Linked DNA regions of Homo sapiens. The protein of the gene in region 2 interacts with the protein of the main gene of each other region in a pairwise test. Each region holds a gene or a part of one and is shown on either strand. Other genes may lie near its edges.

Region 1 (7,741 bases), on a different chromosome or scaffold from region 2:
ATGTGGCCCGGAGCCTAACAGGCCACAGGCTGGTGCTGGCCTGTGGCCGGGTGTTGGAGACCCTTGAGCTAGGCTGGTCCTAAATTCCACAAGGGCAGGAGCCACCTCTCTTTTTTCTTTACCATTTTACTCCCAGAGCCTAGCACAGCACGTGGCGCCTGGCGATAGCAGGCACTCAATGAATCGTTGTTGAATGAAATTAATGAATGGTTAAAATGACCCAAAAGGGTAATATAGTTAAGCTCTTTCAAAGAATGAGGCAACTGCAATTCAGCAAGGTTAAGTATGCTACTAATCAGGTAAGAGGCAGGGTGGTGATTTCACCAGTTTTTTGCCTGTCTCTATACCTTCTGTCGAACAGCCTTTCCCCATCCTTGTCTTCCATGACTTCACCAGGCAGGCAGGTATTCCTTCTGTTCCACAGAGCCTTCCATGGTCTCTTAATTGGGATACACTGGGTCATCTGTCTAGTTAGATCAAGAGCTCCCTGACATGAAACCATTTCCATTCATCACATTTTTATCTCCAGAGCCTGGCATACAAACAGGCAATCAGTACATCATGTGTGTTAAATAAATGAATGAAGCCAAGATCGGTGGCTTATGCCTCTAATCCCAGCACTTTGGGAGGCCGAGGCAGGAGGATCACCTGAGGTCAAGAGTTTGAGACCAGCCTGGCCAACATGGCTAAATCTCGTCTCTATTAAAAATAGAAAAATTAGCCGGGTGTGGTGGCGGGCGCCTGCAGTCCCAGCTATTTGGGAGGCTGAGACAGGAGAATCACGGGAACCTGGGAGGTGGAGGTTGCAGTAAGCCGAAATCGTGCCACTGCACTCCAGCCTGGGCAAACGAGTGAGACACCGCCTCAGAAAAACAAAACAAAAACAAAAATTAACCAGGTGTGGTGGCCAGCACCTGTAATCCCAGCTATTCAGGAGGCCGAGGCATAAGAATAGCTTCAACCTGGGAGGCGGAGGTTGCAGTGAACAGAGATCGCGCCACTGCACTCCAGCCTCAGTGTCAGAGCAAGACTCCATCTCTAAATAAATAAATAAATAAATAAATAAATAAATAAATAAATGAAATATGGGTGTGTCTTCTTGTTTTTCCTGAAAGGAGGAGGAAGGGCAGGACAGGGAGAAACCCTCACCAAGGGGAGTTATCATAGTGTAGTTCAAGGGTCCCCAACACTATTGGTCCATGGCCTGTTAGGAACTGGGCCGCACAGCAGGAGGTGAGCAGCGGAGGAGCAAGGGTGAGCGGCGGAGTAGCGAGGGAAGCTTCATCTGTATATACAGCCACTCTCCATCCTGGCATTACCGCCTGAGCTCTGTCTCCTGTCAGATCAGTGCAGTGTTAGATTCTCATAGGGCCACGAACCCTATTGTGAATTGTGCATGCACGTGATGTTGTGGGCTCCTTATGAAAATCTAGGCCAGGTGCAGTGGCTGATGCCTGTAATCCCAGCACTTTGGGAAGCCAAGGTGGGTGGATCTCTTGAGGCCAGGAGTTCAAGACCAGCCTGGACAATATGGTTAAAAAAAAAAAAAAGTCTCTAATAAAAATACAAAAATTAGCTGCGCATGGTGGCGCATGCCTGTAATCCTAGCTACTTGGGAGGCTGAGGCATAAGAATTGCTTGAACCCAGGAGGCGAGGTTGCAGTGAGCCAAGATTGCACCACTGCACTCCAGCCTGGGTGACAGAGCGAGACCCTGTCAAAAAAACAAAACAGAACAAAAAAACCACAATACCTGATGATCTGAGGTGGAACAGTTTTATCCCAAAACCATCCCCTCCTCCCATACTCCTGTGCATGGAAAAATTGTCTCCCACAAAACCTGTCCCTGGTGCCAAAACGGCTGGGGACCAGTGGTCTAGCTGATGACCCAGTGACAGCCTGGGTACGCAAAGCAGGGTAATAGAAATCTTGAATCTAAGCCAGTTGGCACAGTCGGTGTAAATAAGGGGTTCAGGCCAGATATAATAATGATAAGTGGTCCCCAACTGATTATTGCCTTTAGAGAACTCAGGGCACTATTGCCAGATCTTTTTTTGAAGGAATCAACAAATTAGAATTTTAAAAATTTGAAATCTCCCAATTTTTAACTGTTGACAAGGAATCAGTGGCATACTTAGCATATTTGACACCAAGTGGTCTTTGTGTGTGTGTGTGTGTGTGTGTGTGTGTGTGTGTGTGTGTGAGAGAGAGAGAGAGAGACAGGGTCTCCCTCTGCTGCCCAGTCAGGAGTGCAGTGGTGAGACCATGGCTCACTGCAGCCCCAAATTTCTTGGATCAGCCTCCTGAGTACCTGGGACTGCAGGTGCACACCACCATGCCCAGCTAATTTGTGTGTTTTTTTGTTGTTGTTTTTTGTTTGTTTGTTTGTTTGTTTTTTGTAGAGACCAGGGTATTGCCCAGGCTGGTCTTGAACTTCTGGCCTCAAGGAATCTGCCTGCCTCAGCCTCCCAAAGTACTGGGATTACAAGTGTGAGCCACCTTGCCTGTTCCGGATCATTTAAAAAACATTTTTCTTTCTTTTCTGTCTTTTTTTTTTTTTTTTTTTGAGACAAGCTCTCACTCTGTTGCCCAGGCTGGAGTGGTGCAGTGGCACAATCATGGCTTACTGCTGCCTCTATCTCCCAGGCTCAAGCAATCTTCCCACTTCAGCCTCTTAAGTAGCTGTGACTACAGGCACACATGCCCCCATGCCTCGCTAATTTTTTAATTTTTTGCAGAGATGGGAATCTCACTATGTTGGTTAGGCTGGTCTCAAACTCTTGGGCCCAAGCTATCCTCCCACCTCAGCCTCTCAAAGTGCTGTGATTACAGGTGTGAGCCATCACACCTGGCCCAAATTTTTCTTTCTTTCTTTTTTTTTTTTTTTTTGAGATGGAGTCTTGCTCTGTCGCCCAGGCTGCAGTGCAGTGGAGTGATCTTGGCTCACTGCAGCCTCCACCTCCTGGGTTTAAGCAATTCTTGTGCCTCAGCCTCCAGAGTAGCTGGGATTACAGGTACCTGCCACCATGCCCGGCTAATTTTTGTATTTTTAGTAGAGACGAGGTTTCACCATGTTGACCAGGCTGCTCTCAAACTCCTGACCTCAGGTGATCCACCCACCTCAGCATCCCAAAGTGCTGGGATTACAGGCGTGAGCCACCATGCCCAGACCCAAATTTTTCTTGTTTTCTTTCTTTTTTTGGGGGTGGGGGGCAGGGTCTCACTCTGTTGCCCAGGCTGGAGTGCAGAGGCTTGATCTTGGCTCACTGAAACCTCTACCTCCTAGGCTCAAGCAATCCTCCCACCTCAGCCTCTCGAGTAGCTGGGACCACAGGCGTGCACCATCACACCTGGCTAATTTTTTGTATTTTTGGTAAAGACGGGGTTTTGCCATGTTGCCCAAGCTGTTCTTGAACTCCTGGGCTCAAGCGATCCTCTTGCCTCACCCTCCCAACGTGCTGGAATTGCAGGCATGAGCCACCATGCCTGGAACAAAGTTTTATTTTTCAAGTGGATCATTTAAAAAAATGCTTTATGGCCAGGCACGCCACTTCTCTCCAGCCTGGGCAAGTGAGCCGAGATTGTGCCACTGCGGTCTGGTCTGAGCGACAGAGGGAGACTCCATCTCAGATAAATAAATAAATAAAATTAAAACAAATTTAAACATTCTTTATATGACAAAATTATTCTCAATGGCAATTATAAAATGAATAATAAGGGCCAAGAAATAAACTCAGTGAATATTTTCTTTCCTTGAACTTTGTAAATATAATCATGTCAGCATAAAAACAGCCATGCATTGCTTAACAACAGGGATATGTTCTGAGAAATGAGTCACTAGGCAATTTTGTCATTGTGCAAACATCATAGAGTGTATTTTCACAAACCTAGATGGTGTAGCCTATTACCCATCTAGGCTACATGGTATAGCCTGGTGCTCCTAGGCCCCAATGCTTACAGCATGTTACCATACTGAATACTGTAGGCAGTTGTAAGACAATGGTATTTGTGCATCTACTGTAGAGACAGGGTCTCTCCGTCTGTCGCCCAGGCTGGAGTGCAGTGGCATAATCATAGCTCCCTGCAGCCTCCAACTCCTGGGCTCAAGTGATCCTCCCACCTCAGTCTCCCAAGTAGCTAGGACTACACGCTTGTGTCATCAGGCCTGTCTACTGTTTTTGTTTGTTTTTTGGTAGAGATGGAGGGTCTCACTATATTGCTCAGACTGGTTTTGAACTCCTGGCCTCAAGCAATCCTCCTGCTGCCTTGGCCTCCAAAGTGCTGGTATTACAGGAATGAGCCACTGCACCTGGTCCACTACAGCAATTTAAAAGTTAGATCTGGGCTGGGCGCAGTGGCTCATGCCTGTAATTCCAGCACTTTGGGAGACCGAGGTGGGCAGGTTGCTTGAGGTCAGGAGTTGAGACCAGCCTGGCAACACAGGGAGACCTATCTCTACAAAAAATGAACTAGATTAGCTGGGTGTGGTGGCACATGCCTGTAGTCCTAGCTGCTTAGGTGGCTGAGATGGGAGGATCACTTGAGCCCGGGAGATCGTCAAGGCTGCAGTGAGCTGAGATTGTGTTACTGCACTCCAACCTGGGAGACAAAGTAAGACCCTGTCTCAAAAAAAATATAAAACTTAGATCCATAAAATATTTTTCAGGGAGGATAATTTTATCACTGATTTTTTTTTTCAGAATTTCTGGAACATGGTGATAATAAGAGGACTGATTTTTATTTTTTAAATTCTCTACAGACAATGCACCCCCTTATTGCCTGCAACTCAAGGGGCAGGACTTCTGCCATCCCTATTGTTGGCATGCCACTGCACTGATTTTAAACTTTTAAAAAATGTTGTATGGGCTAGACAAAACACATCTCTGACTTCTGGTCTCAGGTTTATATTTGCAACTTAAAATCCCTCTTCCTACATCAATAGCCTTGCACGTGATGGAGTTAGCTCTAGGTATGGCAGGTACTACACCCGCTGAAGTGAACATGTGCAAGATAGGGCTCAGTTTCCCAGGACAGTCCTACAGCAAAGAGTTTTAAAATGCAATTAATTATTGAGAGTGACAGTTCTTACAGACAGTTTGGATGAAGTGGGTTGAAAGGGGAGGTTTGGGGGTGTCCCCCAAATTATAATGCCCCCAATGAAACAATAACAAGCATCATCTAAACACATATCCTCTCAGATCAGCCTTAGGGTGTGATGGGATCAGAGGTACCAGGAGGCTCCCCCGACCCTTCCACTTTATACCATACTCATTGAGGAATACATCTTTCTTCTGGGACCAGAGTCAGGGAGGAAGGTGGGCATCCTGGAGCAGAAGGGGTGTTCCTGTCCTTGTTAGTCCTGCTTCACACCACTTCTGCCCCCACCCCCCGCCCTCAGAGTCCTCAGGGACTCAACTGCCCGTGGCACATTACCCACAGGCCTGCTTCTCTTCTCAAGGGGGGCAAAGGGCCTGGGCAGCGAGGGTGGGGGAAGCTCAGGAGCTGCAGGAGTGGCGCAGGTGCAGGCACAGGGCGGGGTCTTTGTTCTTTTTTTCATCCCTCCCCTCCCCCTTCCTCCCCGGAAACCAGAGACTTTGCCACCACCAGTATTGGGGATGCTGAGCTGCGGGGTACGGGCCTGAGGAGGGATGGGAGTAAGAAGTGCTGTGGAAACCGTCAGGCCATGAACCAGGCTGACCCTCGGCTCAGAGCAGTGTGCTTGTGGACTCTCACATCTGCAGCCATGAGCAGAGGCGACAACTGCACGGATCTACTCGCACTGGGTGAGCTGGGCAGGGCAGGGGCTGGTGGGGGAGGGGTCATGTGGCCCCAGGTCCCACCTGCTGGGCCCTGGGGGTGGGGCGGGGCTGTTACACCCCCCTTCCTTTCACATCCACAGGAATCCCCTCCATAACCCAGGCCTGGGGACTGTGGGTCCTCTTAGGGGCTGTGACGCTGCTATTTCTCATCTCGCTGGCTGCACACTTGTCCCAGTGGACCAGGGGCCGGAGCAGGAGCCATCCGGGGCAGGGACGGTGGGTGAAGGACAACAGGGATGGGTTGACTGAGAGTTCTCTCTTACCGAGAAGTCCCCACTCATCCCCTAAACTCTGCGTTGCAGCTCTGGAGAGTCTGTGGAAGAGGTCCCGCTGTATGGGAACCTGCATTATCTACAGACAGGTAGGGAGCTGGCAGAGAGGAGGGGCACAGAGGCCAGGTCCTGGGTGGCTGGGATGGGGGCGTGCAGGAGGAAGGACAAGTTGCTGACCAGATTCCTGTTCCCCGTCCCAGGACGGCTGTCTCAAGACCCAGAGCCAGACCAGCAGGATCCAACTCTTGGAGGCCCTGCCAGGGTGAGTCAACTGTGGCTGGAGAAAAGGGGGAGGGAAGGAAGTGGGGGGCTTTTCGGGCTTTTCCGAGGGTCCAGTGAACTTCTAACAGCCTTGCATCTCCAGGCTGCAGAGGAGGTGATGTGCTATACCAGCCTGCAGCTGCGGCCTCCTCAGGGTCGGATCCCCGGTCCTGGAACCCCCGTCAAGTACTCGGAGGTGGTGCTGGACTCTGAGCCAAAGTCCCAGGCCTCGGGCCCCGAGCCGGAGCTCTATGCCTCAGTATGTGCCCAGACCCGCAGGGCCCGGGCCTCCTTCCCGGATCAGGCCTATGCCAACAGCCAGCCTGCAGCCAGCTGAGATGGAGGGCCTGGCACAGCGGGGCGTGCACTGCCCCAGCCCCCCGTAGCAGGGGCATGACTGTTTCCCAACCAGCACCCAAAGACGGGCGCCATTGCCAAGTCACAGGATGTGATCTACCCCGGACTTCCTATCTGAGCTTCAAGGGAGACATCTCAGGGCAAAGCTTTCGTGATGGAGGAGGCAAAGACAGTAGCCCCCTCCTTATTTCTTTTTTCTATCTGTTCCTCTTAGCCCCCAAACTCCCAGGTTCTCACTTCCTTCTTCTGGAGTTTAACCAGATCCTCCCCACCCCCGCTCCCTCATAGTCTACCCCCACGCCTCAGTGTCTCCTCAGGCACAGGAAGTGGGCGGTGGGGGAGGGGTAAGGGCCTGACAGTGGGTGGGTGGGTATATTCCTCAGGAGTCCACAGACTGGAGTGGACCTGGAACTTAGAGACGGGAGGGACCCGAGCCTGGCTTTTGACCTAAGAACCCTAGCAGGAGAATACAGTCTCCATCCTGCTGTCTCTGTCCTGTCCCCAAGTTTTCAAATAAAACTTTCCAAAAAGTGTTTAGATTTTTACCTAGAAGGCTGAAGACTTGCAAAGGGCCCTGCAGATGGGGGTGTGAGCTTTGCTGTCTGCACGGAGCTCTTTCTGGGGGTGCCTAGCTGGGGATGAGGGGCCAAGAGGGGCTGCGGCATCAACAGTGCAGAGGTGGGCACCGGGGTGGAGGGCCAGAGCCCAGCTCCTCAGCTGCTGTTGCTGCTGCTAGAACACCCCTGGGATCTGCACTCAGAGCCACTGCATTCCCCCTGGGGCTGCAAGCTCACAGTCCTGAGCTACTCTCCCCTTGACCTCTATAACTGCCATCACCTCCACAACCTGCCAGCCTGGTTCCTTCATCAAGTCCTCCAATCTGACCTCCGTCTGTCCGCTATGAGTCCCACCTATACCCCTGTTTTGACATCAGTAGCCTTATCTGCACTTAGTCATCGTATACCCCTAGAGGCCTTCTCCTTACCCCATCACTATGGCAGCGGTCCATCTCCACTCACTCTCTCCCACTCTG
Region 2 (8,248 bases):
AGTTGAAGCAGACCAGCAATTGTTGTGACCTACAATCTCCACACCCATCTTTACTCTGAGCCAAGGAAGTGTCTGTTCTTGTGCTGAGTTTCAGGGTGAGGGCTAAGGCAATCGCATATTGTGTTTCTTTGTTTCTTCCTCTCCTATTTTTCCTTTTCTTTTTTTCTCCTTTGTTAATTCAAATTTCTCTAGCATGAACTAAAGTTTGAGGTGTGGTTTGTGTGTTCTCTGGTACAACAAACTTGGGTGAGGAAAAGAGGTAATGAACTTGAAAAAATGATCTCATGCTTACTGGGCGAGTCTCACTTCTTTTTCTTCTGCTTTGCAAATTGGTTTGTTTAGTGAGCAATTGTTTTTAGACCTTTCAATGTGTCTGGAAACATCAACACTACGGGTATGATTAATTTTTATAGGAAAACAAACTGAGTGAAAGCACAATAAAGAAAAAACAAGAAATATAATTCTAGCTTTAAAAAAATCTGCACTCTTTAAAGCAAAGGAACTCCCAGGGTATTGAGCAATTTGAGTAAATCATCATCATACCAGGCCACAGGGCAGTTTTCCCACAGGGCGGGGTGCACAGGGGCTATTCCTTTACATGGAAAATATTTCGAGGTGAGTTGCGTACTTTCAGTCTGGGGCGTTCCATCTCTAACGCGGGCAGTTGCTGCTCTGCCCTCTGCCTTCCACCGCTTTCCACTTGTTAAATGTAACTCATCCCATTGGTTTCCTTCCCACCCCTGCCAGATAAGTAATCCAATATAGTCAGGGAGGCATTGTTTTAGAATAACGTGGGGAGGGTTCAGAAGACCACATATCTAAAACAGTTTCTACATACTGTGGGCTAAAAGAGAAGGCAGGAAAGAGGACACATCATATCATTAGAAGTCAGTATAGCCAGAGAGACAGACCCAAACCCCCAAATCATAAGTTACGAGGTTTGTCTTTTTAGGTTCTACCCTCTCCTTGGGTCTCTTTCCTTCTCATGGTGTCTTCCCTCGCCCTTTGAAAATTAAATAAGAGAAGGGAGCTGATAAATGAGGCATTGACATGGATGGCTCATGAAACTCAATGTGCCTCTTTTATATGAGCTTGCATTTTAATCAGGAATGAAGGAGTGAGTCTCAAATTGTGGCATTCAGAAGTTAGGGTAAACGGTGAGGAAGCCTTTGAATGAAGGAAAAGGATAGAAGGCTTTCTCCCTGCCAGCTTTGTTTATGTGGCTCCCTTTCTGGCTTATCTTGTAGTGAGTCTCATGGGTAGGCTCACAGGTGGGAGGTCAAGAGTTTCTCTTAATTTAAAAAGACGTAAAGGGAAGTGGATCTCCCTACCTTAAAAAGAATAATCATTAGTGACAAACCCCATAGAAGGCTGGGTTAAGAGTTAGGAAACCTGGACTTGAATCTTAACTCTTTTAATAACACATCATGATCGTGAACAAGTCACTTTCTCTCTGTGAGCCTTAAATTTCTCACCTGTACAAAGCCTCCAAGTTTGCAGCCAGAACTGATGTATCATGCCGTGAACAGGCACCTGGCCAATAACTGTCCTAGGATGAATGACACTTTAATGTCTCTCAAATTACATATCTTCTAAGACAAACAAAAACTACCAAAAGTGTAGTCATTGACTTCTAAGTGTGACACCCGTCAATTAATTTAAAAGTTTATAATTTTGCTTTTTAATGCAATTATTTGTTAAATTGGCTTTTTTGATGCACAGCAATCCAATTTTTGTGGCTTCAGAATATCTTATTAAACAAACTTGGGTGAAGAAAAGACGTAACAACGTACCAGACTATATTGCTGTGGCAGAGGCTAGTATGGAAGAAAAGCCATAAACACATATCCACAATGGTTTCAGCTTCCCTGGAGAGCTATTTGCTATAGGCAGAGAGAGGGATATAGGGAAGGAAGGATAATTCTGGGTAAGAGAAGTTGAGGAGAGAAGAGGTTTTTCAGCTGGGCTTCGGAAGGTGGTAAAGAGTTCGATAGGCAGAAATGGGAGAAGGGATTCCAAAGACAGGGACACCCTAAGCACAGCATGGTGGCATGACCAGGACACCAAAGGGTTGGGGGGGTGGGGCACGCAGTGAAAAATGGCAGGCAGGCCATTTAGAACCTGGATGGGTGCTGCCTTGAATACACACTGAGGAGTTTGTACTTTATCTCTTAGGTGGTCCAACCACTCCTCCACTGGCTGAATGGAAAATATAATAGTTGGGTCTGGCCAAATACTATAGACTGGTCTTTCAGAAGGGAACAGGAGCAAATCTGGATTCAAAGAAACTGGTCAGCAACAGAGAGTGGGGGGACAAGTGATGAACCTGGCAATAGGAAGTAAGTAGGAGCTGGTGGCTGGGCTTGTAAGTGCAGAGGGAATGACCGAGGGCTCTCCTTTGAATTTAGGCTACAGGGAACCTTTGAAGGGTTCTAAGCAGGGGGGAGATATAAATTCAGAGCTGTGTTTTAGGACAGTGGATCTCAAGATTGGCTAAGTGGCTGGCACTTGGAAGCCATGTTTATCTTTGTAGAATACCAGAAAATTTTGGTCTACTAAATTTAAAATAAGTAAGTAGATCATTTTGGCCTAAATTCATACCAAAAACTAGATTTTAGCATAGACAGGTGGTAGTAGCATCCACAATTTAAGAAAAATGTGTAAGAGGAAAATGTTTAAAATCACAAATTTTTATAGTAATTTTTCCTCAAATTAGGAAATGACTGGAATCATTCAATATTGGCATCAAAACATGTTGTCCCAGTAAATGGAACATCTGTGTTTTGGAGGATCATTTGAGAACCTCTGCTTGAGAAAGTTCACCATGGAAGCACTGTATGGAATGGAAACAGAAAATGTTTAATTCATCTGATCCAGAAGTTAGGGGCTGGCAGTGGGAATTGGTAAAATGGTATCAGGAGACATCAGAAAATGATCATATGTGCTTCTATCAAAAATATACATCAATCCCAATTGGGATGGTGTGTTACTCAAGGTTCTTTCAGAGATAGAACCAAAAGGAGATACATAAAGAGAGAGAGAGGCAACGTATGGTGGCTCACGCCTATAATCTCCACACTTTGGAAGGCCAAGTCTTGAGGACAGGAGTTCAAGACCAGCCTGGGCAACATGATGAAACCCCTTCTCTACAAAAAATTTAAAAATTAGCCAGACATTGTGCATGCACCTGTGGTCCTAGCTACTTGGGAGGCTGAAGCAGGAGGATCACTTGAGCCTAGGAAGTCAAGGCTGCAGTGAGATATGATTGTGCCACTGCACTCCCTGGGTGACACACAAAGACCCTGTTGAGAGAGAGAGAGGGAGAGAGAGAGAGGGAGATATATATATATATATATATATATATATATATATATATATATATATTAATTCTAAGGAATTAACCTATGTGATGTGATTGTGGGGGCTGACAAGTCCGAAATCTATACAGCAGGTGGGCAACCTGAAAATTTGGGGAAGAGTTGATGTTGCAGTCTTTTTTTTTTTTTTTTTTTTGAGACGGAGTCTCGCTCTGTCGCCCAGGCTGGAGTTCAGTGGCCTGATCTTGGCTCACTGCAAGCTCGGCCTCCCGGGTTCACGCCATTCTCCTGCCTCAGCCTCCCAAGTGGCTGGGACTACAGGCGCCTGCCACCACGCCCGGCTAACTTTGTATTTTTGGTAGAGTCGGGGTTTCACCGTGTTAGCCAGGATGGTCTCCATCTCCTGACCTCGTGATCCACCCGCCTCGGCCTCCCAGAGTGCGGGGATTACAGGCGTGAGCCACCACGCCCGGCTTTTTTTTTTTTTTTTTTTTTTTTTTTTTTTTTTTTTGAGACGAGTGCAATGGCGCAATCTCGGCTCATGGCAAACTCCGCCTCTCCCGTTCAAGCGATTCTCCCGCCTCAGCCTCCTGAGTAGCTGGGATTACAGGCATGCGCCACCACCCCCAGCTAATTTTGTATTTTTAGTAGAGACGAGGTTTCTCCGTGTTGGTCAGGCTGGTCTCGAACTACCAACCTCAGGTGATCTACCAACCTCAGGTGATCTGCCCACCTCAGCATCCCAAAGTGCTGGGATTACAGGCGTGAGCCACCGCGCTTGGCCTGATGTTGCAGACTTAAACCTAAAATCTGCATACTGAAAACTTAAGAGTTTCTCTGTTACAGTCCTCTTAGGGCAGAAATGCTGCTTCTTCAGGAAACATCAGTTTTTGCTCTTAAGGTTTTCGGCTGATTGGAGGAGGCCAGCCACGTTATGGAGGGTAATCTGCTTTACTGCTTTACTCAAAGTCTACTGATTTAAACGTTAATCACATCTAAAGAATATCTTCACAGCAATATCTAGACTGATATCTGACCAAACACCATATCCAAGCCAATCCCACCATATCCCAGCAATATCTAGACTGATACTGACCAAACACCATATCCCAGCCAAGTTGACATACAAAATTAACCAGCGCAAGGTGTTCATTACAATACTTCTTTATCAGGCAGGCAGAGACAAAACTCAAGAAGCTATTAACAAAGGCAAAACTACTACCAAGCCCTAGAGAACACCACAGTTTATATTCTGTGTATAGAGAAGTCACCATTTGTCCTTCCCTTTTGTTCTTTCTCCGTGCCTATCCTCTATGGAAAGGTCAACAAATTCATAATGTCTTTTTTTTTTTTTAAATATCCATTAGTGTGGAACTGTGTCAAAGCTTTTCTTTTTTAACCTAAAAAAAAGTGCATTACTCTACCCCTATGCACAGGCATTTATTAATCTTCAAAGAACCCTAAACATCAGCCAGGCCTGATCTTTTCCTTTTGTAGAAATTATGTCACCTTTCCTCTAAGTGTGCCAGGAAAGCAGCTCTTCCTAAAGATCCATCCAGCTAATGTATTATAAAAGTAAACTCACTTGTCTCAGTTTTCCAGGACTTTTCTAGACATCTTCCATTGAATGAGGGGCAGGGGGAAGTCTTTGACACAGACTTTGTAAGGTCAGCTTACACGTTGTGACCAGTTTTTCAACATCACTTTTGAGTGTCCTCTTACTTCTTGGGTAACTGTCTTCTGAGCTCAGTAATTTGCCTATTTCTTTCTTTTCCTTTAGCTCTAGAATAGTAGTTTCCAATCGTTCTGGGGCTAGCTATGTGTTTAGGAGGTTTAGAGCTGGTGAGAAGATGCTCTGTGAGCCCAGGATTCCTACTCTCGTTTCAGCCAGAGAAGTACCATTCTGATCTGATTTCATATATTAGAGTTCCCTACTGAAATCATATTTCCCTATTTCCTTTGAAAATGTTGCTCTGTATCAAAAAAATAATAATAATAAACCACTGGTTTTAGGTACCTTCACCAACCACTGGGCTATTAGCTCTAGTCTGTCTCCTTTATAAGACAAAAATAAGCAAAATTAGTATTGGGTAACTAATATTGTATTAAAACTTCACATATATTCTCATTTAATTTTCATAGTAACCCTTGAAGTTAAGTATTACTATACTCATTTGAAGATAAAGCTCGAGAAGATTAAGTAACTTCTTGGGGTCACAAAACTAGTAAGTGGTAGAGCTAAGATTCAAACCCAGGTCTATCCAAAGCCCACATTCGTTCCACTTCACCATATTCTCTAACTTGCTCTTCAACAAAGTTCTAGGCAAATTATTAATCTGCACACTCATTTATTCAAATAAACATTATTTATTTACTTTATCTTTTTATTTAGCAAAACAATTGAGTGCGCCTACTACATGTCAGGTACTATGCCACTTTGGACCTAGAAAGACAAATAAAACAGGGTCCCAAATGCCTCCTCCTACTTTGGAGACTCTTGCAATAAAGTGCAGGATGCCCTTCACAGGTTGGCAATGGGAGGAAAGAATGCAAAAGGGCAGCAGAGCAGAATACTCTCTGAGTAATGTCTGTGTCAGGGAGAAAGTGGCCCCAGGACAAGGACAACCTCAGGGGCCATCTCTGCATCAACTTGCAGTGTGGGGCAGAGGCCTTAGAGCTGGCCAAAGGCAGAGGGATGAGGCCCAATGGCGAGTGTTAACTGTTCAGGAATGCTAATGGCATGCAAGGCGGGCCCCTCCCATGTGGATGTGCAGCTTGGTACCTGACTCTGGCCGCACCCCAAGCACAACTAGGAAGTGTTTTTCCTTTTCTCTCATGAATTCATCTATGGAAAATAAAAAGAAGTACAAATGGGTATCTTGTGTAAGCCCTCCTGGTCCCTCGAGCAGAGCAGCCCCTGTGCAGTGAACAGAGGGAAGGTGGAAGGAAGGCTGCTTCTCCTCAATCTAAGAGCCCTTGGCTGTGAGACCAGTCACTGTTAAAACCTCCCTTCTATCCCCCTGGGGTCACTGATATATAAAACAAAATCATAACCCAATACCCTGCCCTTCCTAAATATCCTCTGGTTATAATTAATAGTTTCTTATATGTGTAAACAATCTTAGTGCTTACCTATTACTTTTGTATCTTTTATCTCATTTAGTGATCACAGCAACTCCATCTAACAAGTTATTGTCTACTAATTTTATAAACGAGGAAGTAGATACTAAGGAAAACATTGTCCAACTTTACACAGTAATGATAATGACAGCACAAAGCTGGGACTTGAACTCTGGCATTCTGATGCCAAGTCCAGTGTGGTCACCATTATACTACAGATATTAGACTATGCTGTGAGCCACTGGAAGCCTACACTTGGCTCCCTCTTGACATCTGTGGCCATTTGGGGGATGCAGCAAATGTTTTAGGTCCTCTGGACACCAACCTAGTCTAAAATACAAGTGGCCAAGTAGAAGCTATGAAATGCTAACCTCTCATTGACTTGCACATTGCACATTTTACTTCTAAGAATTCTGGTCTTGGGGGTAGGTGGATGAGCTGTAGATTTTTGATACATCCAGACAGGTTTTCTGGAAAAGCATGTGGGTACAGCACTGAGTTTGGGGGAAATATGCAAATATGAGCATCGTGTCCAGGGGCTAAAGAGACAAGAAGCTGGAGATGTAAGTGAAGAAAAGCCTAGTGTTTCTGACCTTTGCAAAGGTAGAGTCTCCTGAGCAGGGAAATGTGTCTGTTCTCTCCACTCCAGGTGTTTCTATTTCTACTGAAAGCATTTGCTATGTAGCAAGACTTTATAAACTGTAGAGTGTTTAGCAAATGATCTGGCGCCAGGCAGACCTGTGTTTCAGTCTCAGCTTCTGCACTTTCTAGCAATGTGGCCTTGGGCAAATTAATCTCTCCAAGCTTCCCTTTTTTTTTGTTTTTTTTTTTTTTGGAGATGGAGTTTTGCTCTGTTGCCCAGTGCAGTGGCCCAATCATGGCTCACCACAACCTCCACCTCCCAGGTTCAAGCGATTCTCCTGACTCAGCCTCCCAAGTAGCTGGGATTACAGGCACCCGCCACCATGCTCGGCTAATTTTTGTATTTTTAGTAGAGACGGGGTTTTGCCATGTTGGCCAGGCTGGTCTCGAACTCCTCACCTCAGGTGATCTGCCCACCTCAGCCTCCCAAAGTGCTGGGATTACAGGCGTGAACCACCATGCCCGGCCCCTTTTCTTTATACAAACAATGGCAAGACAACAGCTTCTCCCCCTAGATCCTTCAGAAGCAACATAGCCCTGATTTTAGCCTGGTGAGACTCATTTTAGACCTCTGCCCTCCAGAACTGTAAGATACATTTCTGTTATTTTAAGCCACGAAGTTCGTGGTAATTTGTTTCAGCAGCAATAGGAAATGCAGACCTGAAAAACCCATCTCTCAGGTCTGTTGAGAAGATGAATATCAAATGCCTAACATAGTGCCCAGAGCATTGTAAGTGCCCAATAAATGGCAGTTTTCATCACTATTTCCTTATCTTGGAAGACAGGAGTAGCTAAATTATCATGTGCCATTGATACCAAAGGCCTAAGGGAGAAGAAGAGAATGCATAGTGAAAAAGGAGAACATTTTAGTGGCCAGAAAATTCAGAATATCTTGCCCACTGACATATCACCACCTTCCAATAACCAACCCACAGCTGGGCTGCCTCCCTGGCATTTCTGTCATGTCCTTGCCTAGGTTTCTTCAATTTATGCTTTTCTTTTTGCTCAGAGCAAGTTTCTACCTTCCTTCTTTTCTCCCACTTTTATCTGCGTTTTCCACCCTAATTGTGACTCCTGCAATTCTCCCATAGAATATTCATTTGCTCTTTCCCCTTTGTCTAAACTCTGTGTGGCAGAGTCATCTCTGGAAAAGTCTGTACGTCACGGGG
Region 3 (4,965 bases), on a different chromosome or scaffold from region 2:
GCCTGCCAACGTGACGACGCTTAGTCTGTCCGCGAACAAGATCACTGTGCTGCGGCGCGGGGCCTTCGCCGACGTCACACAGGTCACGTCGCTGTGGCTGGCGCACAATGAGGTGCGCACCGTGGAGCCAGGCGCACTGGCCGTGCTGAGTCAGCTCAAGAACCTCGATCTGAGCCACAACTTCATATCCAGCTTTCCGTGGAGCGACCTGCGCAACCTGAGCGCGCTGCAGCTGCTCAAAATGAACCACAACCGCCTGGGCTCTCTGCCCCGGGACGCACTCGGTGCGCTACCCGACCTGCGTTCCCTGCGCATCAACAACAACCGGCTGCGTACGCTGGCGCCTGGCACCTTCGACGCGCTTAGCGCGCTGTCACACTTGCAACTCTATCACAATCCCTTCCACTGCGGCTGCGGCCTTGTGTGGCTGCAGGCCTGGGCCGCGAGCACCCGGGTGTCCTTACCCGAGCCCGACTCCATTGCTTGTGCCTCGCCTCCCGCGCTGCAGGGGGTGCCGGTGTACCGCCTGCCCGCCCTGCCCTGTGCACCGCCCAGCGTGCATCTGAGTGCCGAGCCACCGCTTGAAGCACCCGGCACCCCACTGCGCGCAGGACTGGCGTTCGTGTTACACTGCATCGCCGACGGCCACCCTACGCCTCGCCTGCAATGGCAACTTCAGATCCCCGGTGGCACCGTAGTCTTAGAGCCACCGGTTCTGAGCGGGGAGGACGACGGGGTTGGGGCGGAGGAAGGAGAGGGAGAAGGAGATGGGGATTTGCTGACGCAGACCCAAGCCCAAACGCCGACTCCAGCACCCGCTTGGCCGGCGCCCCCAGCCACACCGCGCTTCCTGGCCCTCGCAAATGGCTCCCTGTTGGTGCCCCTCCTGAGTGCCAAGGAGGCGGGCGTCTACACTTGCCGTGCACACAATGAGCTGGGCGCCAACTCTACGTCAATACGCGTGGCGGTGGCAGCAACCGGGCCCCCAAAACACGCGCCTGGCGCCGGGGGAGAACCCGACGGACAGGCCCCGACCTCTGAGCGCAAGTCCACAGCCAAGGGCCGGGGCAACAGCGTCCTGCCTTCCAAACCCGAGGGCAAAATCAAAGGCCAAGGCCTGGCCAAGGTCAGCATTCTCGGGGAGACCGAGACGGAGCCGGAGGAGGACACAAGTGAGGGAGAGGAGGCCGAAGACCAGATCCTCGCGGACCCGGCGGAGGAGCAGCGCTGTGGCAACGGGGACCCCTCTCGGTACGTTTCTAACCACGCGTTCAACCAGAGCGCAGAGCTCAAGCCGCACGTCTTCGAGCTGGGCGTCATCGCGCTGGATGTGGCGGAGCGCGAGGCGCGGGTGCAGCTGACTCCGCTGGCTGCGCGCTGGGGCCCTGGGCCCGGCGGGGCTGGCGGAGCCCCGCGACCCGGGCGGCGACCCCTGCGCCTACTCTATCTGTGTCCAGCGGGGGGCGGCGCGGCAGTGCAGTGGTCCCGCGTAGAGGAAGGCGTCAACGCCTACTGGTTCCGCGGCCTGCGGCCGGGTACCAACTACTCCGTGTGCCTGGCGCTGGCGGGCGAAGCCTGCCACGTGCAAGTGGTGTTTTCCACCAAGAAGGAGCTCCCATCGCTGCTGGTCATAGTGGCAGTGAGCGTATTCCTCCTGGTGCTGGCCACAGTGCCCCTTCTGGGCGCCGCCTGCTGCCATCTGCTGGCTAAACACCCGGGCAAGCCCTACCGTCTGATCCTGCGGCCTCAGGCCCCTGACCCTATGGAGAAGCGCATCGCCGCAGACTTCGACCCGCGTGCTTCGTACCTCGAGTCCGAGAAAAGCTACCCGGCAGGCGGCGAGGCGGGCGGCGAGGAGCCAGAGGACGTGCAGGGGGAGGGCCTTGATGAAGACGCGGAGCAGGGAGACCCAAGTGGGGACCTGCAGAGAGAGGAGAGCCTGGCGGCCTGCTCACTGGTGGAGTCCCAGTCCAAGGCCAACCAAGAGGAGTTCGAGGCGGGCTCTGAGTACAGCGATCGGCTGCCCCTGGGCGCCGAGGCGGTCAACATCGCCCAGGAGATTAATGGCAACTACAGGCAGACGGCAGGCTGAACCTCCGCCCGTCCGGCCCGCCCATTCCCGACCTCCACCTAGGGTGCCTGGGAGCAGCAGTCTAGGGCTGGCAGGACTTATGTCCCCCGTCCCCAACCTTCACCTACTCCTCCCCCTTACTACTCCCCAACCTTGACTACCAGGGACTTCTATTAGGGAGTGGGCCGATTTCACCAGTCCCTGCTACCCACGGCTGCCATTCTCCCTGCGGGCTGAATCCCCTTCCCCGCCAAGCACAGTGTTTATCTTACCCCATGCAAGACTCCACCCGCAGACGGTGGGCGATATCTATGTCCCTCCATTCCCGTCGCGATTATCTGCGAAATCCACCCCGCAGCCCGCCCCACCGTGGGCTCTGGAGCCAGAGGAAACGAGCGAAGACTTTGGAAACCTCGCGGTAACGCGGTGGTTTCGGGGGCCAGCCAAGGCCAGTGGAGTGCTGTGGGGTCCCACCTCGACCCCTCCTCCTCCCTTTCTTTCTTTCCTTTTTTTTTATTTTTTAATTTTATTTATTTATTTATTTATTTTTTGACGGAGTCTTGGTCTGTCGCCAGGCTGGAGTGCAGTGGCGCGATCTCGGCTCACTGCATCTTCCGCCTCCCGGGTTCAAGCGATTCTCCTGCCTCAGCCTGCCTAGTAGCTGGGACTACAGGCGCGCGCCACCACGACCAGCTAATTTCTTCTATTTTTAGTAGAGACGGGGTTTCACCATGTTGGCCAGGATGGTCTGGATCTCTTGACCTCAGGTGATCCATCTGCCTCGGCCTCTCAAAGTGCTGGGATTACAGGCGTGAGGCACCGCGCCCGGCCCCTCCTCCCTTTCAATCCCTACTCCCAGAAGCCGGGATTCGTGGCAACCCCTAGTTTTTAGTTCCAAAGCCTCCTGCCGGCAGGGAACCAAATCCTTCTGTCCTCCCACCCCCACCCCACTTCTGGCCAGTTGGAGTCCAGCCCGGTGCCTGGGGCGCCTTTCAGCTCCGCGCTCAGATTTTCCTGTTTTCGTTGTTTTCAAAGACAGCGACATTTCGGGTCTGGTGCTAACACCCCCTTCCCAGCCTCTGGGAAAATCGAGTGTGTGTGTCGGGGGGTAGGGAGGGAATGCGTTTTCTGTCGTCTCTCTCCTAACTTAAAGCGCCGCAGGACCGCGCGCCCCTTGGCGGCTGAGCCTGTGGACTTGGTCGCGGGCCAATTTCGTTGTCCGTGTGTTGGGCTTTCCGGAGGTCTGTGCGCCCAACAGCGCCGCTCCCGCGGCTCCACCCGACCCAGACCCTAGCTGGAAAGCGCCGGAGGCGGAGGAAGCTGACTGTGGCCTCCCGGGCCGCGGCTCTCTGGAGGGCTCGCGCCCTAGTTCGCACAAAGCCTGCTCGTGACTGTGCGACTGTGCGACGGGATCCGGATGGAGCCGAGCCCCTCCGTCCTCGCGTCTCGGTCCTCGCGTCGCCCCGCCCCACCCGCCCCTGCTTCGGCGGGAATCGTGTTTGCCCGGCGTGTAGTCCCTGACAAGCGTGCCCTGTAGGAGAAAAGTCTGTGTCCTGTGAAGTGTGACCGTGTAGTGTAGGGGGGCGGGCGGGGGGGCGGATGGGCGGGGAGGGAGGGAAGGGGAGGGGCGCGGCGCGGCGACTCGGGGCGGGGTTCTTTTTTCCATTTTGAAAGAAAGCGTCGGGGTTGGGGTGGGGGGAGTTTCAGTCCTCGGGATCAGCCCTCTCCGCGAAGCGCAGCACAAGCGCGGGCCTGGGACGGAGTAGCCCCCCGGAGCCCGTGCCCTTTTCTAAACGCGTCTGTATGCAGTCAATAAAACAATCGATTTGAACTGGGCTCGGTGACTTTTTGTCAGGGGACAGAGGGAGGAGGCCTGGGCGATGAAGGAGGAAACCGCGGAAGGAAGGAGCCCCCCCAGAGCCTCCCGTTGGAATCTTTTGAGTGATTTCCTGTTTGCGTGACCATCCTGTGATTTTTTTGCCAGGTGTTTGCACCCAGCCCTGCTCTTAGTGTCTCCAACTCCAGGGTGGGGTGACAAAAAACGAGGGCAGGCTGCAAGTGAGTAGGGGGAGGTTGCAGGAAAGGAAGGCGGGTGTCTGCAGACCCTGAACACAGGGAGTCTGAGTGTGCGTGCAAGTATATTTGCACTCAAGGGTGTGCGGCACCCTCTTTCACTTGAGACTGTCTGTGTAGTGGGGTGTGGCTGTATATGGTGTCACACTGCCCAGTTTCTGTGTCTCCACATCAGCCTTTGAGTTCCCTGAGAAGCCGGTGGGAAGAGGATGGGATTCATAGGGACAAGACCGCTGTGGCTTGCACAAGAGAAGTCACAAATAACACAAAGTACAGAGCGGGCAAATGATGTAAAGCAGGAAAGGGGGAGAACCTGGCCAGGCCGATTGCCCAGAGCGAGCCGGCACGTTTGGCCTGGGAGCCAAGTGTGTGCGTTGTGTGGGTGGGTGGGGAGCACTCAGTGAATGATGCATGCACAACCGTCAGGGTGTGCCAAGGGGGTGCACCTGGGGAATCAGGGTTGAAAACACACTGATTTCATAGTCCTAGAAAGGGGCTTTCTTGGGTGAGGAACAGGAGAGACAGGGGGATCAAGAAAGGAGACTGTGCTCCTGGCCAGCCTAAAACACACGGGTTGGGCTGCTGTGTGTCTCAGCTGAATCCCCCTAAGATGGGAAGAGGCGGGGAAGAGAGATGGAAGAGGAAAGCAACAGAAATGGGAAGCAGATAAAGATTCTCTCTCTCCCCTCCCTTCTTCCTGCTTCCAATTTCTTGTCCTCTTTTGCTGTCTCTGTGGGTCTTCCTAATTGGACCAGTCCAGGCTGGCAACAGGCCCAAGTTCCAATGCTCAGGGTCCTACCCCAGCCTCAGGTCTGTCCTCT
Region 4 (8,248 bases), on a different chromosome or scaffold from region 2:
CCGAGCGCAGGGAAGAGGCCCATTGTCAGGAAGTGAGCTGCTGCCCTTTGGTGGCCTGGGTGGCCTGTGGGCAAGTCTGAATCCCCATGTCCTCCTGCTCCTTGGGCAATGATCTAGTGACTGTGATTCTCCTGACCAGTCTTGTGAGAAGTGTCTCCCTGCAGATGCTCTAGTGGCCCTGGGAACTTTGGAACGTGAGGGGGCTTGTGGGGTCTGGCTGATTGGGTGCTGGCTTTCAGCTTCAGTCCTGACACGAGAGGCTGAGCTCTGGAGAAATGTCAGGGTCCACCATCCCACCCATCTTGCCCCCACCTCCTCGGCTGCGCACACGTGCTCAGAGCAAGCATTTCTCTCACCAACTCAGGGATCCCTGCACACCAGGGAGCACCCAGCCTACACCTGCAGCCTGGCACAGTTGGGGACCGTTTAGTTGGTGCCAGCTGGAGGTGTTTGGAGGGAACCATCCGGTGATCAGGATAGAGGCACAGCTGGCCGAGGGCAGGTGGGCGCCTGTGGGTGCAGGAAGATGTCACATCTGCAGGCATTGTTTGGGGACGTCATTGTGTAACCAGCCCTGCAGGGCTGCAGAGGCATCCCACAAGTCTGTGTGCTCTCTAGGCTGCGTTTATTGCCCCACTCTAGACCACAGGCCTGGGCATATTTGTGTCCCCATCCCCAACCCTGTCACCTGAAGCAGCCTGCGAGCCCCGACAGGAAGGGACAAGAAGAGGCGAAGATGACAAACATTCACAGACAGCCCACGGCTGTTCTTTTGCTCTGACAGTGTATCTTAAGCTCCCTTGAGCGCCTTACTGAACAGATAGATCAGCTTCTTTTCAATCTCTTGTTTGCTCTTATAAAGGAAATTAGGTCATGCTGGAAACTATGCCATGATGCCCCTATGCTCACTCACCTGATGAAGTGTGGGAGGCTACCCCCCAGCAAACAGAAATGGGCACACAATCTGAAGCCTCCTTATCACACTGGAGACTTCCAGAGCAACTTCAGTAAGGTCTGTGAGGGGGAACGCTCTGTTGTTTGACATGGGCTTGTGGCTTTCAGCTAGGGGCACGCACTTCTCCACCAGCTCTTTTTTTATTTTTATTTATTTTTTATTTTTTTTTTGAGATGGAGTTTCGCTCTTGTTGCCCAGCATGGAGTGCAATGGCGTGGTCTCGACTCACTGCAACCTCCGCCTCCCGGGTTCCAGCGATTCTCTTGCCTCAGCCTCCCCAGTAGCTGGGATTACAGGCACCTGCCACCAGGCCCAGCTAATTTTTGTACTTTTAGTAGAGTTGGGGTTTCACCATGTTGGCCAGGGTGGTCTCAAACTCCTCTTAGGTGATCCTCCCGCCTCGGCCTCCCAAAGTGCTGGGATTATAGGCATGAGCCACCGTGCCTGGGCAGCTCTTTCCCTAATAAGAACACTGGTTCTGAGGCCAAGTAAGAGGCTAAATTAAGAAAGCAAAGATTTATCATAAGTTTGAGGCCCACGAGGAAAAAAGCCTCCATTCATCATCCAGAAACACAAGGAAACATCATTTGCCCCTCAGTGGACAGGTGATGTTTCTTACATACCCTATGACATAGCTGCCCTGGTCCCTCCCAAGCCCAATGTTTCATTGGCCAAGCTTCCAATTTGCTTTACAAGGTGTGAGGACAGAGAAGCATCCAGCCCATTCTCCTGTGGCCCTGCTCCATTTAGAGCAGACACGAGTGGATAGCTCAGCTGGTCACTAGCTCCTGGGCTGCCCCCACTCACAGAACAAGAGTGTGCGTTTCTCCTGAGAACTTCCTACTAAAGAAAACAGCCAGCCCAGGCATGGATTACAGGCTCACACCTGTAATCCCAGCACTTTGGGAGGCCAAGGCAGGTGGATCACTTGAGGTCAGGAGTTCAAGACCAGCCTGGCCAACGTGCATTTTTCTCTATAAAAAATACAAAAAGTAGGTGTGGTGGCACACACCTGTACTCCCAGCATCTCAGGAGGCTGAGGTGGGAGGATCACTTGAGCCCAGGAGGCAGAGGTTGCAGTGAGCCAAGATCGTGCCACTGCACTCCAGCCTGGGTGACAGAGTGAGACCTTGTCTCAAACAAAACAGAAAAACAGTCCAACTAGGAAGCTTGCTTCTCCCGGAAGCCTTGCTGCATGGGCTGACCAGGCACAGTGCTGGGCCATTCCACTGGGCTGGGCCAGGCTGGGGAGGTACCTTGATTTGGGGATGGCAGCTGGCCTTGTCCTTGACTCAGGGGCTGCTTTTCTGTAGACCAAGTGCACTTCACGGATTTCTCCAGAACTGGTAGAGACAAAAGTGAGAGAGTGGGAGATGCATTTGAAGCATGTTGGCTTTATTATTTGCAAAACTGAAGTCTGGCCCAAAAGAAGGTTGATCTTCTTTTAGGAGGTCTGGAACAGGACGTGGTCTCTTCTGTGGTGGAATGTTTTTGTTTTGGCTGAATGGTTGCGTCTTAGTGATTTGACTGAGAGCAAAATCAGCTTCCATTTTATCCCCGCTAAGTCACACTTTTTCCATAGAAGGGGAGTTGTGGGAAGCATAGCTTTAAGGGAAGGCAAAGCACACCTTGCTCTGAAACTCTTTGGTCACAACCATGTAAAAACATGTCTGAGGAAAAATCCTAGGCAGAAATACAGCAAAAGTCCACTTAGCCAAGGAGGCCATGGGTAGTTCTTTTCCTCCTTTCTTGTGTTCTTATTTTTCCAGATTTTTATTTTTATTTTATTTTTATTTTATTTTTTTTTGAGACAAAGTTTCACGTTTGTTGCCCAGGCTAGAGTGCAGTGGTGTGATCTCGGCTCACTGCAACCTCCACCTCCCGGGTTCAAGCGATTCTCCTACCTCAGCCTCCTAAGTAGCTGGGATTACAGGCATGCGCCATCATGCCTGGCTAATTTTTTGTATTCAGTAGAGATGCGGTTTCACCAGGTTGGCCAGGCTAGTCTTGAACTCCTGACCTCAAGTGATCCACCCACCTTGGCCTCCCAAAGTGCTGGGATTATAGGCATGAGCTACCGCGCCCGGCCCCTTTTCTAGATTTTTTTTTTTTTTTTTTGAGACGGAATCGCACTGTGTCACCCAGGCTGGAGTGCAGTGGCGCAATCTCAGCTCACTGCAAGCTCCGCCTCCTGGGTTCACGCCATTCTCCTGCCTCAGCCTCCCGAGTAGCTGGGACTACAGGCGCCTGCCACCACGCCCGGCTAATTTTTTGTATTTTTAGTAGAGACGGGGTTTCCCTGTGTTAGCCAGGATGATCTTGATCTCCTGACCTCGTGATCCGCCACCTCTTGTCCTTCTAACAAGAAGAACTCATACCCATACTACGTAAAGATAGCTATCGCATACACTTTTATCACCAGCCTCCTTCCCACAACAATATTTATATGTATAAATCAAGAAGCTATTATTTCAAACTGATGCTGAACAACAATCCCAAAGTGCTGGGATTACAGGCGTGAGCCACCATGCCTGGCCCCCTTTTCCAGATTTTTAATAGTGAGCATATATTACTTTTATGACTGGAAAAAGTATTAACACATTCCTACTCTATGTAATTGAAGGAATTAGTCAAGTATTGTATCACCCTAATAGTACTTTCATGTACACACTCTATGTTGCTTATTTTTATGGATTTCATATACTTTGTCTCCACGCATAGGAAAATTGAGTTGGTGAGGCTTGCAAAACTCCCCAACCCACACTGTTTAGTTTTAGCAGACTTATCACATGAGTGTTTTCATTTAAAGAACAATAACCAGCCGGGCGCGGTGGCTCATGCCTGTAATCCCAGCACTTTGGGAGGCCGAGGCGGGCAGATCACAAGGTCAGGAGATCGAGCCCATCCTGGCTAACATGGTGAAACCCCGTCTCTACTAAAAATACAAAAAAATTAGCCAGGTGTGGTGGTGGGTGCCTGTAGTCCCAGTTACTTGGGAGGCTGAGACAGGAGAATGGCGTCAACCAGGGAGGCAGAGCTTGCAGTGAGCCGAGATCACGCCACTGCACTGTAGCCTGGGCAACAGAGCAAGACTCCGTCTCACCAAAAAAAAAAAAAAAGAACAATAACGATGACTCTTTAGGGTTCATTAAACAGTCTAAGAAATACAAATATTTAGCTCCCCTCAGCCATCACTGCCTCAGGCCCATTCATGATCATGAATCCAGATCCATGAGCTCTGTGGCAGCGTCTTTGAAGGTGGAGCTTCTCTGGATCATTTGAGGGACTCTATTTTCCTTGCAGGTGTGGGAGCCACTTCAGGAGCTTCTGCCAACTTCCCTGGCACCTCGGGCAGCAGCACCCTGTCTCCCTTCCAGCACGCCCACAAAGGTGAGGAGGGTGCTCAGGTATCGATCACCTGGAGTTAGGTGGTACTCGGATGAAAGCTCAGAAGAGGAGAGGAAATGATCATGAGTGATGATTATGGTGCGCTTCCCCACCTGGCCTCACCTCCCTAATGTAATTGAATGACATGTTGCCCCCCGTGCAGGAAGTCATTATATCTGCAATCAGAGTTGATCCCTCTATGGGTGTCCTGGGACCGCTGGGAGGTGCTGGTGGTGAAGGCGGGGGCATAGCGGCAGGTGGACAGCACAGGCAGCTGCAAGCCCGGCCAGGAGGAGAGACCAGGCGTCCTGGGCTTTGGTTTGGCCGGGAGTTAACAGCAATTCTATCACTGGTTTTCATATAAACATGCTGACCATAGCACTTTAATATTAACTTGCAGAATGTACATTTCATTCTCCCTAACCAGGGAAGAAGGGATTGAGGAGGACCCCAAAGTTTAATATGTCTCTCAGAGTCAGCCCTCCAGCTGGCTTGGCCTTTCTCTCTCACTGGTTTAGTGCCAGCCCATTATTGAAGCATGTTTCGGGCCCAGGTCTCAGCGAGCCGTGAGGTACCCTCCAGAGCCCTCAGAGCACCCAGCTCGTCAGCTTCATCTCTGGGCCTCCCACGCGCTAACGCAGAGCAAAAGGCAGGACTGCTGGGCGAGGATATATGAATCTCATTTGCACAGGCCCCGGGGGGAGTAGCTCAAAACACGGAGAATATTAAAACACTTATGTCATCCAGACCTGGCATGCTAACGCTATTACAGGTATTCCCCAGATGATGCTGGGAGGCTGGTTTTCCTGCAGATGCACCCACAGGGGAGGCTCAGCGCCCACATGCGGGGTTCTCAGCTCTGGCACTACCTCCCCCGAGATGATTTGGGAGCTTCAGATGCTGGTCTCCTGTCTATTTGGGTGGTGGCAAATCTGGATCTTAGTTCAAGACAATCAGAGTCCTGTTTGGTTATTTTAGAGAATGAGAATGAGCTTCAGGGCATTTTATGCATCCAGGGTCGACATTAACCTGGGAACTGAGCAAAATCCCCCGGGGTGACTGAGGGACTGCCTGGTGGAGGCGGCAGTGCAGGTGGAATAGGTGGCCCAGCCGAGGCACCCCCTGTGCCCTGGGGCTCTTACAATGACACTTAGGTTGAAATTGCATGAGGTGCAAGATGGAGCCAAACCTGGAATCCAGAGCTGACTTTCGCATCCTGACTTTTGTTTGGAAATGCCCAAACTTGAATTGTGCTGCCTTCCAGCCACTCTTGTTCACTGGCCTTTCTTCCTCTCCACACCAAACCCTGCCCTCAGGTTGCCAAAGCAGTAGAAGCAAGAGCAAACTCCCTAGGAACAATCAGGTGACCCCAGAGAAGTCTGGAGAGGCCAGTCTGAGGGCAGCGAGCAGGGCTGTGGGCAGTCCTGGTCTGGCAGCCAAAACCAGCGCGGAGGATTTGGTTCTCAGTCTAAGCAAGCACCTCAGATTTCAGGGTTCCCTGAAAGCATCCCAGGGGCAGGGCCATTGCTTCCAGGGGCCGGAGTCCTGGAGGGAAGACCAGCAGGGATCCTGAGCTCTGGGTCATTCATGCCTTCTCTCCACCCACAGAACTCTCAGGCCAAGGACACCTGGCCACTGCCCTGATCATTGCAATGTCCACCATCTTCATCATGGCCATCGCCATCGTCCTCATCATCATGTTCTACATCCTGAAGACAAAGCCCTCTGCCCCAGGTGACGGCCCCCATGCGCCGGTGCCCTGCTTCCTGGACTCTCCGTCAACTCCCCCTGTCGGAGAGCCTGGCTGCTCACTCCCTCCTCTCTCCCCAGCCTGTTGCACCAGCCACCCGGGGAAGAGCGTGGAGGCCCAAGTGAGCAAGGACGAGGAGAAGAAAGAGGCCCCAGGTCTGTGAACCAGGGCTTCCACACACCATGTGCACGGTGCCCATCTCTGGGTGGAGGGCGTTCCCAGAAGCAGCCTCCTCGCTGCTTCTGCTCTCACATGCTGAACCATACTGTGCTTACCGTGGGGTGGTGCCACACAGACACCGGGCAGCTCTGCCCAACAGGAAGAGCAGGGTTGGGCTGAGCGCAGAGCCATGAGCCAATTCTAACTCCTATCTCCCCAACCTCCCCATTTCCCTGCAGACAACGTGGTGATGTTCTCCGAGAAGGATGAATTTGAGAAGCTGACAGCAACTCCAGCAAAGCCCACCAAGAGGTATGTGGAAGCCCCCAGCACCAAGCTGAAGCTGGGGTCCTGTGGATCCTGAGCAGGGAGGGGAACCAGGGTGCAGCCGAGTGAACTGACAGGCTAGCCTGGGACACTATGGGGACGTTCGGCGACAGACAGTCCCCACCACCTCTTTGCTGACTGGCAGGGGTCAGGTGGTGTGAGGAGCCTGTGGAAACAGCTGCCTGCTGCTCTCGGGTCAGGCCCCTGTCCCTGCATCCTGCCAAATTCCCTGGGCCTTCCTCCTTAACATCCGAATTCCTCATGCCCCTTCTCCAGACTGGGAGGGCAGAACATAAAGCCAAGGATGCATGCCTGTTGCGGCCAACACACCAGTACCACCCGTGCCGGTGCCAGTACTGCTGCCACCGTAATGCTGGTAACAACCGTGGTGATGACGGCTAACAGCATTTGGTGCCTACTGCCCACCAAGTGCTGGGCTAGGGCTGTGAACACATCCTCCCTCCACAGCCCAGGAGCAAGGTGCTTGTATCATCCCTGTTTATAGGATACCACACTGAGGTATGGAAGTTGTCACTCGCCCAAGGTCACACACTAGTGAACAGCAGGGCTGGGGTCCGAGTCCAGGCTCCCAAGGAGCCACATGGTGTAAAGAGGCCTCTGGAGGAGGAGATTTGGCAGGTGAAGCCTTTCCCGCGTTTACCACACATGAAGGTGTGGAACCAGCCCCTGCTCTAAAATCGAGGGTAGAGGGAAGTCAATATTTTATTCATCCAGTGGGATGGTCATTTGGACTTGGTCCTGCGTAGCTTCCAAAAATCAACCCCACAGCATCAGCTCCCAGCCAGGCAATGTGCTCGGACCCCCCTGCCAGGCCTCTGCCCGACAGCCACTGCAGGCTGCGCCTGGAAGGACACCCCCGCAACAGTGCCTCCCTTGGCAGATGGGGCACAGAGGCCACCAGAAGGTCACCAAACTGGTTACAGGAAGAGCAGAGGTTAAGCCCTCCTCTCCTGCCCCCACCCCATGATCTTCCTATGATTCACCTTGCAAAGCCATTCCAATCGATCCAGCATCTGTGTGGAGATCCTGTGTGCCAGATCCAAGCTGCTGCTCCCAGGACCAAGGGCAGGACCTGGTCACCCTGCATGGAACTCTTAAATAGGGCCTCCCTAGAGACTGAATTTGCTCCTCAGCCTCCAGCCCAGCCTTATCTCATTCTGTCTCAGCCTCTCCCTTCTGATATTCAGGCTTTTCTTATTCCCAGAAATCAAAAAGGCAGAGACGTGCCCCATGACTTGAGTTGCAGTTGAAGACAGGGAAAATTTGGAGGCCCTATTAGGAAAAAATATATACTGCTTTCATACACGAATATTAAATACAAATTGAACCCTGACACTTGTACGTTAAAAGACAGCAAGGCACTGAGCTTTTGTCCCTGCTGTTTGTCCTTAGGTCTCAGAGACAGGACCTGGGGTGCCACCTCACCTGCTCCACCTCACCTTCTCTCGAGTGGGGACAGGGATGGGTCCTACCACCTCCTTGTGAGGCCCTGAAGCCTGATGAGGAAGTGGGTCCCACTGGGGCTTCATGATGGTTCTCATTGTCTTTGTATTACCCTGTCTCTAGGGTTGTGTTTGCATATGGGCTTCACTGCTGTAACCTAGTTACTAACAAATATAATCCTTTTTTTAAGAAAAAAAGGTCTTCAG

The links.
Region 1: the proteins of UPK1B (region 2) and SIT1 interact in binary tests that used the Homo sapiens proteins (3 or more experiments, as listed by UniProt).
Region 3: the proteins of UPK1B (region 2) and ISLR2 interact in binary tests that used the Homo sapiens proteins (3 or more experiments, as listed by UniProt).
Region 4: the proteins of UPK1B (region 2) and EDAR interact in binary tests that used the Homo sapiens proteins (3 or more experiments, as listed by UniProt).

Annotation. Positions count from the first base shown.
Region 1 is NC_000009.12:35,648,795-35,656,535, reverse strand, and holds SIT1 (signaling threshold-regulating transmembrane adapter 1 precursor), read left to right. Parts: upstream 1-5,604; 5' UTR 5,605-5,682; coding exon 5,683-5,782; intron 5,783-5,898; coding exon 5,899-6,034; intron 6,035-6,120; coding exon 6,121-6,179; intron 6,180-6,290; coding exon 6,291-6,352; intron 6,353-6,454; coding exon 6,455-6,688; 3' UTR 6,689-7,241; downstream 7,242-7,741. UniProt on the Homo sapiens protein: Negatively regulates TCR (T-cell antigen receptor)-mediated signaling in T-cells. Involved in positive selection of T-cells.
Region 2 is NC_000003.12:119,176,015-119,184,262, forward strand, and holds part of UPK1B (uroplakin-1b), read left to right. Parts: intron 1-8,248. UniProt on the Homo sapiens protein: Component of the asymmetric unit membrane (AUM); a highly specialized biomembrane elaborated by terminally differentiated urothelial cells.
Region 3 is NC_000015.10:74,132,901-74,137,865, forward strand, and holds the end of ISLR2 (immunoglobulin superfamily containing leucine-rich repeat protein 2 precursor), read left to right. Parts: coding exon 1-2,092; 3' UTR 2,093-3,902; downstream 3,903-4,965. UniProt on the Homo sapiens protein: Required for axon extension during neural development.
Region 4 is NC_000002.12:108,908,775-108,917,022, reverse strand, and holds part of EDAR (tumor necrosis factor receptor superfamily member EDAR precursor), read left to right. Parts: intron 1-4,258; coding exon 4,259-4,345; intron 4,346-5,950; coding exon 5,951-6,076; coding exon of another isoform or gene 6,077-6,172; coding exon 6,173-6,247; intron 6,248-6,490; coding exon 6,491-6,563; intron 6,564-8,248. UniProt on the Homo sapiens protein: Receptor for EDA isoform A1, but not for EDA isoform A2. Mediates the activation of NF-kappa-B and JNK. May promote caspase-independent cell death.